Linked DNA regions of Homo sapiens. The protein of the gene in region 2 interacts with the protein of the main gene of each other region in a pairwise test. Each region holds a gene or a part of one and is shown on either strand. Other genes may lie near its edges.

Region 1 (3,828 bases), on a different chromosome or scaffold from region 2:
TCAGTTCCCCTTCATGAGTTCCCAGTTTGGGCTAAAGCTTTGCTGATGGCTCTAGTTGCTCAGCCTTGAAAAGTCAGAGTCCTCTATGACTCCTAAGACATAATCAGTAGATTCTGGGGGTTCTTCCTCTGTAATCTCTCTTACATCTGCCTGTTCCTTTCCACAGCCTTCATGTCTCCCTCTCTCTGCAACTGACTAACCATCTCTGGTATAGGCCCTCTCAATGCCACCCACTCCCCCAAGTCTTTCTACTCTAAACTGACCTAAAAGGAGACAATGCTACCTTGTGCTGTCTTCTGCATAGTCCTGAAATGGTCTAATCCCATACTGGTACTTAGCTCTTTCCTCATATTTATTATATGTTTTATCATCCAACTAGATTATAAATCTGGAAAGGAAGGATCCTGTGGCTGAGATGTATCTGGATCCCCCATGGAGTTATGTTTTACACTTAGAATTCACTTGCTATGACATATTTTAATTTGCGTGAAAATTCAACCCTTAGATCACAAAATTATCTTTAGAAGGTTTTTCAAAACCAGATTACCCTGGTTCCTCTACATGTTTGCTCAATGACCCTGGACAAATTATATCACTTCTCTATTGCCCCATTTCCCCATGTGTGAAATGGGGTTATTAACAGTATCTTATAGCGTGGTAATGGGGTTAAATGAGATTATCCATGTAGATGCATACTATTGACATGTACTCCGTAAGTGTTAATAATAACCAAAATGTTCTCCATTACTACAATCTTGATTTATATTCATAAGCAGTTTTATCAGTGCCTTCAAAATACTCATTACCTTCTGTTTATACTAACCACACACAATAAGCTCAATATGAACACTTAATTTTTTGACTCTACCAACATACACCCATGGCTGGCCCTTGAGAAGTGGCTCTAAGCAGCAGCTTTAAAGCTCAGGGTCTCCCTGAAGCCCTCTGCATGTCAAGTACATGAAAGAAGGAATGCCATCTCACCAGTGGCCCAGCAGGGGCGCCATAGGGGCCAGTGGCAGGGTAGGCTCCGGTGGCACTTGGCTGTCCAGAAGATGGGTAGGCCCCAGGGCCGCTGGGTGGCCCTGGGTAGACTCCAGGTGCAGGTGCTCCGGGATAAGCTCCAGGTGCTCCAGGGTAGGCGCCTGGAGGTGCCTGTCCAGGATAAGCCCCTGGGGGTGCCTGCCCGGGGTAGGCCCCAGGATAGGAAGCCCCTGGGTAGCCCCCTGCCCCAGCAGGCTGGTTCCCCCATGCGCCAGGCCATCCTTGAGGGTTTGGGTTTCCAGACCCAGATAACGCATCATGGAGCTGGAAAGAAAGACATACACAATTACGGGACAGAAAGCATTCTCAAAAGCAGAATTTTCAGGAAAATAGGAATATGTGATCTAAGAAGGAGAGGAATATGGCAAAGGCATTACATGCATATCATTAAACTTTTTCCACTTATTAATAGTTTGAGTTTCTAAGACTAAAATTAGATGTTGGGATTACATATACTTTTTCACTTTATTCTTGCCTCCCAACGTCTCAGATCAGGGAGGGCTGCATTTTCATAATTAGCTCAAGTCAGGAGTTAGCGCTCCTCTACTTATAGCACATACTTTTTCATCACCGTGAGAAAAACAATCACAAACATCAGAATGCCCAGACTGTACCGCACTTCCCGCTACTCAGAGGATTTCTCAGCTCCTGCCGGCAGAGTCCACTCCCTTCCGCCCTGGGCCTTTTGGTGAAAGGGTTACTGTGAGTGAGTCCCAGGCCTCGCTCTGCCTGGCTTTCTTCCCAAATCTGCTGCTGGAAAAACAAGGCTCCAGCTTGCAAGCCCTCATTGGACAAATGAGTCCAGGGGAAGCCACGCAGTGGGAGAGTGAAAAGGGAAAGTCATGGTAAAAACAAAACCCCCAACCCTCAACCATGTGGAGCTGATCAAGGGGAAGAAACAGGCATAAAACACTTACCGAAAAATTGTCTGCCATTTTCCTGAAAGAAACAAAGATTATCATTTTATCCTAAAAGCTTTCACCAATTTCCATTAAACTGAACCTCACCACTAGTTCATTGTGCAGTTCTAATCCATCTCTAGGCATTATGCCTAAGTCAGTAGTGTGGCGCCACAAAAACATCTCTTCAAGGGGCAGGGATGCTATCCAGCTAGATTGCCAAACCCTATTTAACTCACAAGTTTAAACTTCCGTCACACTAGCCTGTGCTCTGAATCTTACCCATCTGCCCTCTGTCCCCACTAACTGCCCCATCCCCTACTCTGGGTTTTTGAAGATAAGCAGTGATTGATTACTACTGAGACAGGAAAGACAATGACCTCCAGACATAGTTGCTGCCCTGCTATTTATTCCTCTATTTGCACACACTTATGCCTGCTCCTGGCCAGGCACTGCGCAGGCTCCTATCTAGGTGTGAAGATGAATAGGCCATGATCTGCATGGTCAAAGGGGCCACAGGATCTAAAACTCAAAACAATTGAGCCCACAGAGATATAGAATAGAAGGATGGTTACCAGAGGCTGGGAAAGGTAGTGAGGGAGGGTGGGAGGGAGGTGGGGATAGTTAATGGGTGACAAAAATAGTTATAATGAATGAATAAGGCCGGGTATTTGACAGCACAGCAGGGTGACTATAGTCAATAATTTCATTGTACGTTTGAAAATAACTAAAAGTATAACTGGATTGTTTGTAACACAAATAAATGAGAAGAGGGATACCCCATTTTCCATGATGTGATTATTAGGCATTGCATACCTGTGTCAAAACATCTAACGTATGCCATAAATATATATACCTGCTATGTACCCATAAAGATTAAGAATTAAAAAAAAATAAAAGCCGAAGGGCCTACAGTGCAGCAAGGCAGATGAGATGCATCCATGGAAATGTGAAATAACAAGTCACAGATGCTATGAGTCAGAATGTGTGCTGTAGGAATTCAAACCCAGAAAGCTTACTTCTAAGAAGGAAAGGAAAGGTGCTGTTGGAGCTAAGCCTCAAAGGGGAGCTGAAGTTTGTATGTGCTTTTTTTTTTTCAAAGGTACTTGTTATTCCAAATAAAATATTTGGCAGTACAACAAACTAAGGTGAAAAAATTCAGGCAACGTGACGTGAAGGAAAAAAATATTTGGGTCTAAGATGCTACCAAAGAGGGTTTGCCTAAGGGGTGGTCTGGAGACATCAGTCCTGCTTTCTCCTGTTCCTTCCCATGTCAAGGCTCCAAAAGCACAAGATGCTTCACAGCTGTTGTAGGTGCTCCAGCAGTGAGGGGAGGAGGGCAGCTGGGCCCCTGAGGCATGGGTGAGTTCTTCCTAAGCTCAGGATCACCTGTGCCATGGCCTGAATTACCTGGACCTTGAAACAACCAGAATATCCTTCTCTTTGATTTGCCCACCTGTGATATTTACTCAATCACTTTTAGAAATGGCATCGGCCCCAAGGGATCCAATAAATGTCCACTACTTGATTCAAATGCAAGATATTGGCTGGGTGTGGTGGCTCATGCCTGTAATCCCAGCACACTGGGAGGCCAAGGTGGGCAAATCGCTTGAGCCCAAGAGTTCAAGACTAGCCTGGGCAATATGGCAAAACCCTGTCTCTATGAAAAATACAAAAATTAGCCGGGTGTGGTGGCGCATGCCTGTGTTCCCAGCTACTCGAGGGGCTGAGGTGGGAGGATCATTTGAGCCTAGGAGGTCAAGGCTGCAGTGAGCTGTGATGGCACCACTGCACTCCAGCCTGGGTGACAGAGCGACCTCATCTCAAAAAAAAAAAAAAAAAAAAAAAACCATAAAATATTACCTTATTTTTGGTAAAACTCAAA
Region 2 (3,828 bases):
TTCAATAGGACTATCTCAAGAGATTTTATCTCTATGACTCAGAAACAAAAAATGCCAACAGTTTAGAAGCCAAACTCAAGGAGATGCAAAAATTCTTTGGCCTACCTATAACTGGAATGTTAAACTCCCGCGTCATAGAAATAATGCAGAAGCCCAGATGTGGAGTGCCAGATGTTGCAGAATACTCACTATTTCCAAATAGCCCAAAATGGACTTCCAAAGTGGTCACCTACAGGTTAGTTTTGCTCTGGCTCATTTTGGCAAAAACAATAAAGCCTGTTTCCTAGGGGTCAAACATTGTTTTCTTGTTTGCTACTAGGATCGTATCATATACTCGAGACTTACCGCATATTACAGTGGATCGATTAGTGTCAAAGGCTTTAAACATGTGGGGCAAAGAGATCCCCCTGCATTTCAGGAAAGTTGTATGGGGAACTGCTGACATCATGATTGGCTTTGCGCGAGGAGGTAAGAAAGATTCCTGTAGGCTAATCCTGTGTCCTGTTTTGTTTGTTCATGGTTTATATCAGTGCTCTTTTCTTATGAAGATTAAAATCCTTTAATGAGATATGATTGGTAGATAGATAGTTAATAGATAGATTTAGCAATATTATTATAATTTTTATAATCTGGTAATATAGAGCCACTTTTTATAGCAGCAGTTGGCAAACTATGATGCATGAGCCAAATCCAGCCCACCTTCTGTTTTTGTAAATAAAGTTTTACTGGAACACAGTCAGGCTCCTTCATTTCCCTATTACCTATGACTGTTTGGGCTCAGGCTGCAACTGTGACAGAGATCACAAAGCTTAAACACTTGTTATCTGACCCTTTACAGAAAAAGTTTGCCAACCCCTGTTTTGTAACGTGAATTATTATTTATATATACAGTCATGCACTGCTTAACAATGGGAATACACTCTGAGAATGAGAACTTTGGCAATCTTGTCACTGTGCTAACATCATAGAATACACTTACACAAACCCAGGTGATACAGCCCACTATCCACCTAGGCTACATAGTATAGCCTATTGCTCCTAGGCTGTAAATCTATACAGCATGTTACTATACTGAATACGGTAGGCAACTGTAACACAGTGGCAAGTATTTGTGTGTCTAAACGTATTTAAACATTGAAAAGGTAATGTATTGAGCTATGACATTATCACAACTACTATATCACTAGGCTATAGGAATTTTTCAGCTCCATTATAATCTTATAGGACCATTGTATATGTGATCTGTTTACTGAAAGATCATTATGTAGCACATGACTATATGTTTACAATATATCTACCTAACATCGATATTAAATCAACAGAAAGAGTCGCAGCTTCCAAAGGCCTCAAGAGTCCCCTGAGAAGTGGTATATGACCTGTTGCTAATGCCTTTCATGTGGCAAGGAAGTAGGAAATGGAAACTTTCATATTAAAGAACTTAAAAATATATAACACAGCAGGGTGTGGTGGCTCACGCCTGTAATCCCAGCACTTCGGGAGGCCAAGGCAGGTGGATCATCTGCGGTCAGGAGTTCAAGACCAGCCTGGCCAATAGGGTGAAACCCCATCTCTACTAAAACAAAAATTAGCTGAGCATGGTGACGCATGCCTGTAATTCCAGCTGCTTGGGAGGCTGAAGCATGAGAATCGCTTGAACCTGGGAGGCAGAGGTTGCAATGAGCCAAGGTCACACCACTGTATTCCAGCCTGGGCAACAGAGCAAGACTATGTCTCAAAAGAAAAAAAAAAAATATATATATATATATTTTTTTTTTTTACGTGGGTTTTTCTATATGTAAAACCCATTTTTTTAGTATATGTGTTATATATGTGTGTGTGTGTATATATGTATATATAAAACCCATATACATAAATTGTTCTTAATTGCTAGTGTTTCATGGTGCAAATTTAGAGAAAAATGTTGCCCATTTCAGTCTGTTCTATGTGGAATGGTCCGGCTACTGTAGCTGAAATTTGAACTTCAACCCACAATATTGACAACACCGAAGAAAATGTTATGGGAAAGCACTAATCATGGCACTACAAGTTTTTTAAGAGCTAGATAAACTGGACTGGCCTCATATCACCTCGAAGATAACCAGCTCTGCATCACACATTAAAGGACTATAAAAAGCCATTTTAAGAGATCTTGAGCATGGCTCTCTAAGAGACTATTTACTATGCCCACGAAGAATAAGCTAGGTTTTTAAGAAAAAAAAAAAAAAAAACCTATGAAATGGTGCACAAATTACTTGCCAAATGTGGTATTCATATTCATTCTCCCTCCCACCACCCTTTGGCCGAGCAAAGTGGTCAAATTTAACAAAAGCTTAAATGCAACCTTAAGTTAGATATAACTGCATTTTAAGTCCTGTATCCAGTAAGCTTTCAATATATGGTGATTATCAGTGATGAGCAATGGTTCTGTGAAAGGAAAAGTGTCTGGGCCAAGAAAGCACCCAAACTACCCTGTGAGTGCAACCGACAGCACATAACAATGTCAGCTACTTGCACTGGGCTGCCTTTTTTTTTTTTTTAATTTATTTTTTGAGATGGAGTTTCACTGTTGTCACCCAGGCTGGAGTGCAGTGGCGCGATCTCAGCTCACTGCAACTTCCGCCTCCTGAGTTCAAGCAATTCTCCAGCCTCAGCCTCCCAAGTAGCTGGGATTACTACTTGGTGGCATGTGCCACCATGTCCAAATTTTTGTATTTTTAGTAGAGACGGGGTTTCACCATGTTAGCCAGACAGGTCTCAAACTCCTGACCTCAGGTGATCCGCCCACCTCGGCCTCGCAAAGTGAGCCACCATGCCTGGCCTGGACTGGGCTGCTTTTTCTAGCCTCAATAATCGTATAAACTGAAAAATAAAATGACTGGAGAAAAAAAAAATCAGTCACTAAGAACAATCACTCCATTTTCTTTCAGCTCATGGGGACTCCTACCCATTTGATGGGCCAGGAAACACGCTGGCTCATGCCTTTGCGCCTGGGACAGGTCTCGGAGGAGATGCTCACTTCGATGAGGATGAACGCTGGACGGATGGTAGCAGTCTAGGTATAGCATCTCATGTCTCTTCTACTCCACATCCGTTTTAAAATCCTGGACTTACACTAAGTTAAATAATTATATTAATTTATAATAAGTATTGAGCCCTTGCTAAGTGCCAAACACTGTACTATATGCCTGAAATGCATTATTTCATGTAATATACTCATAATGCTACACACAGAAGATGGACACTCAGGCTATGGAGTCAAGCACCACTGATCCAATTTGCTGTACGTCTACCAATTACTCTGTGTCATTGGGCAAGTTATTGAATTTCTCTGAGCCTCAGTTTCCTCCTCTGTGGAATGGAAATATAAATAGTTCCCACATCAAGGAGTCTTTAAATTAAATGAGATAATGCTTATACAGTGCTTGGAATGTATTAATAATTAATTAAATTATAGCTCTTTCTTCATATTTCCAAAAAATACATGCCCCAAATGGAAAAGAAAGAGAAGTAGAAACTATGATATTTGAGAAGTATATGCAATTCTGGAATTATTCACTATTTTCCAGAAAGAACCAACTCCATGATTTAGTATATCATATTTATCATTTTACATAGTAGGATATTATAGGCACATGAGAGAACTAATGGAGAAGAGCTCTGGCATAAATAATCCCAATTAGAGACAATTTTTTTAAGGCTACCAACTGGCCCTAAAAGGGAAATTTGTACTTGTGTTTGGCAAAAGGAATTCACCATAGCTTGCTGTCTTGCTGTGAAAATCTATGTTAAATTGTGATGCTGCCTCCCATTTGCATCTGGCATATTCTT

Evidence for each region.
Region 1: the proteins of MMP7 (region 2) and LGALS3 interact in binary tests that used the Homo sapiens proteins (3 or more experiments, as listed by UniProt).

Annotation. Positions count from the first base shown.
Region 1 is NC_000014.9:55,135,525-55,139,352, reverse strand, and holds part of LGALS3 (galectin-3), read right to left. Parts: intron 2,371-3,828; exon of another isoform or gene 1,984-2,370; coding exon of another isoform or gene 1,980-1,983; coding exon 1,962-1,979; exon of another isoform or gene 1,309-1,961; coding exon 985-1,308; intron 1-984. UniProt on the Homo sapiens protein: Galactose-specific lectin which binds IgE. May mediate with the alpha-3, beta-1 integrin the stimulation by CSPG4 of endothelial cells migration.
Region 2 is NC_000011.10:102,524,164-102,527,991, reverse strand, and holds part of MMP7 (matrilysin preproprotein), read left to right. Parts: intron 1-8; coding exon 9-235; intron 236-319; coding exon 320-468; intron 469-2,927; coding exon 2,928-3,056; intron 3,057-3,828. UniProt on the Homo sapiens protein: Degrades casein, gelatins of types I, III, IV, and V, and fibronectin. Activates procollagenase.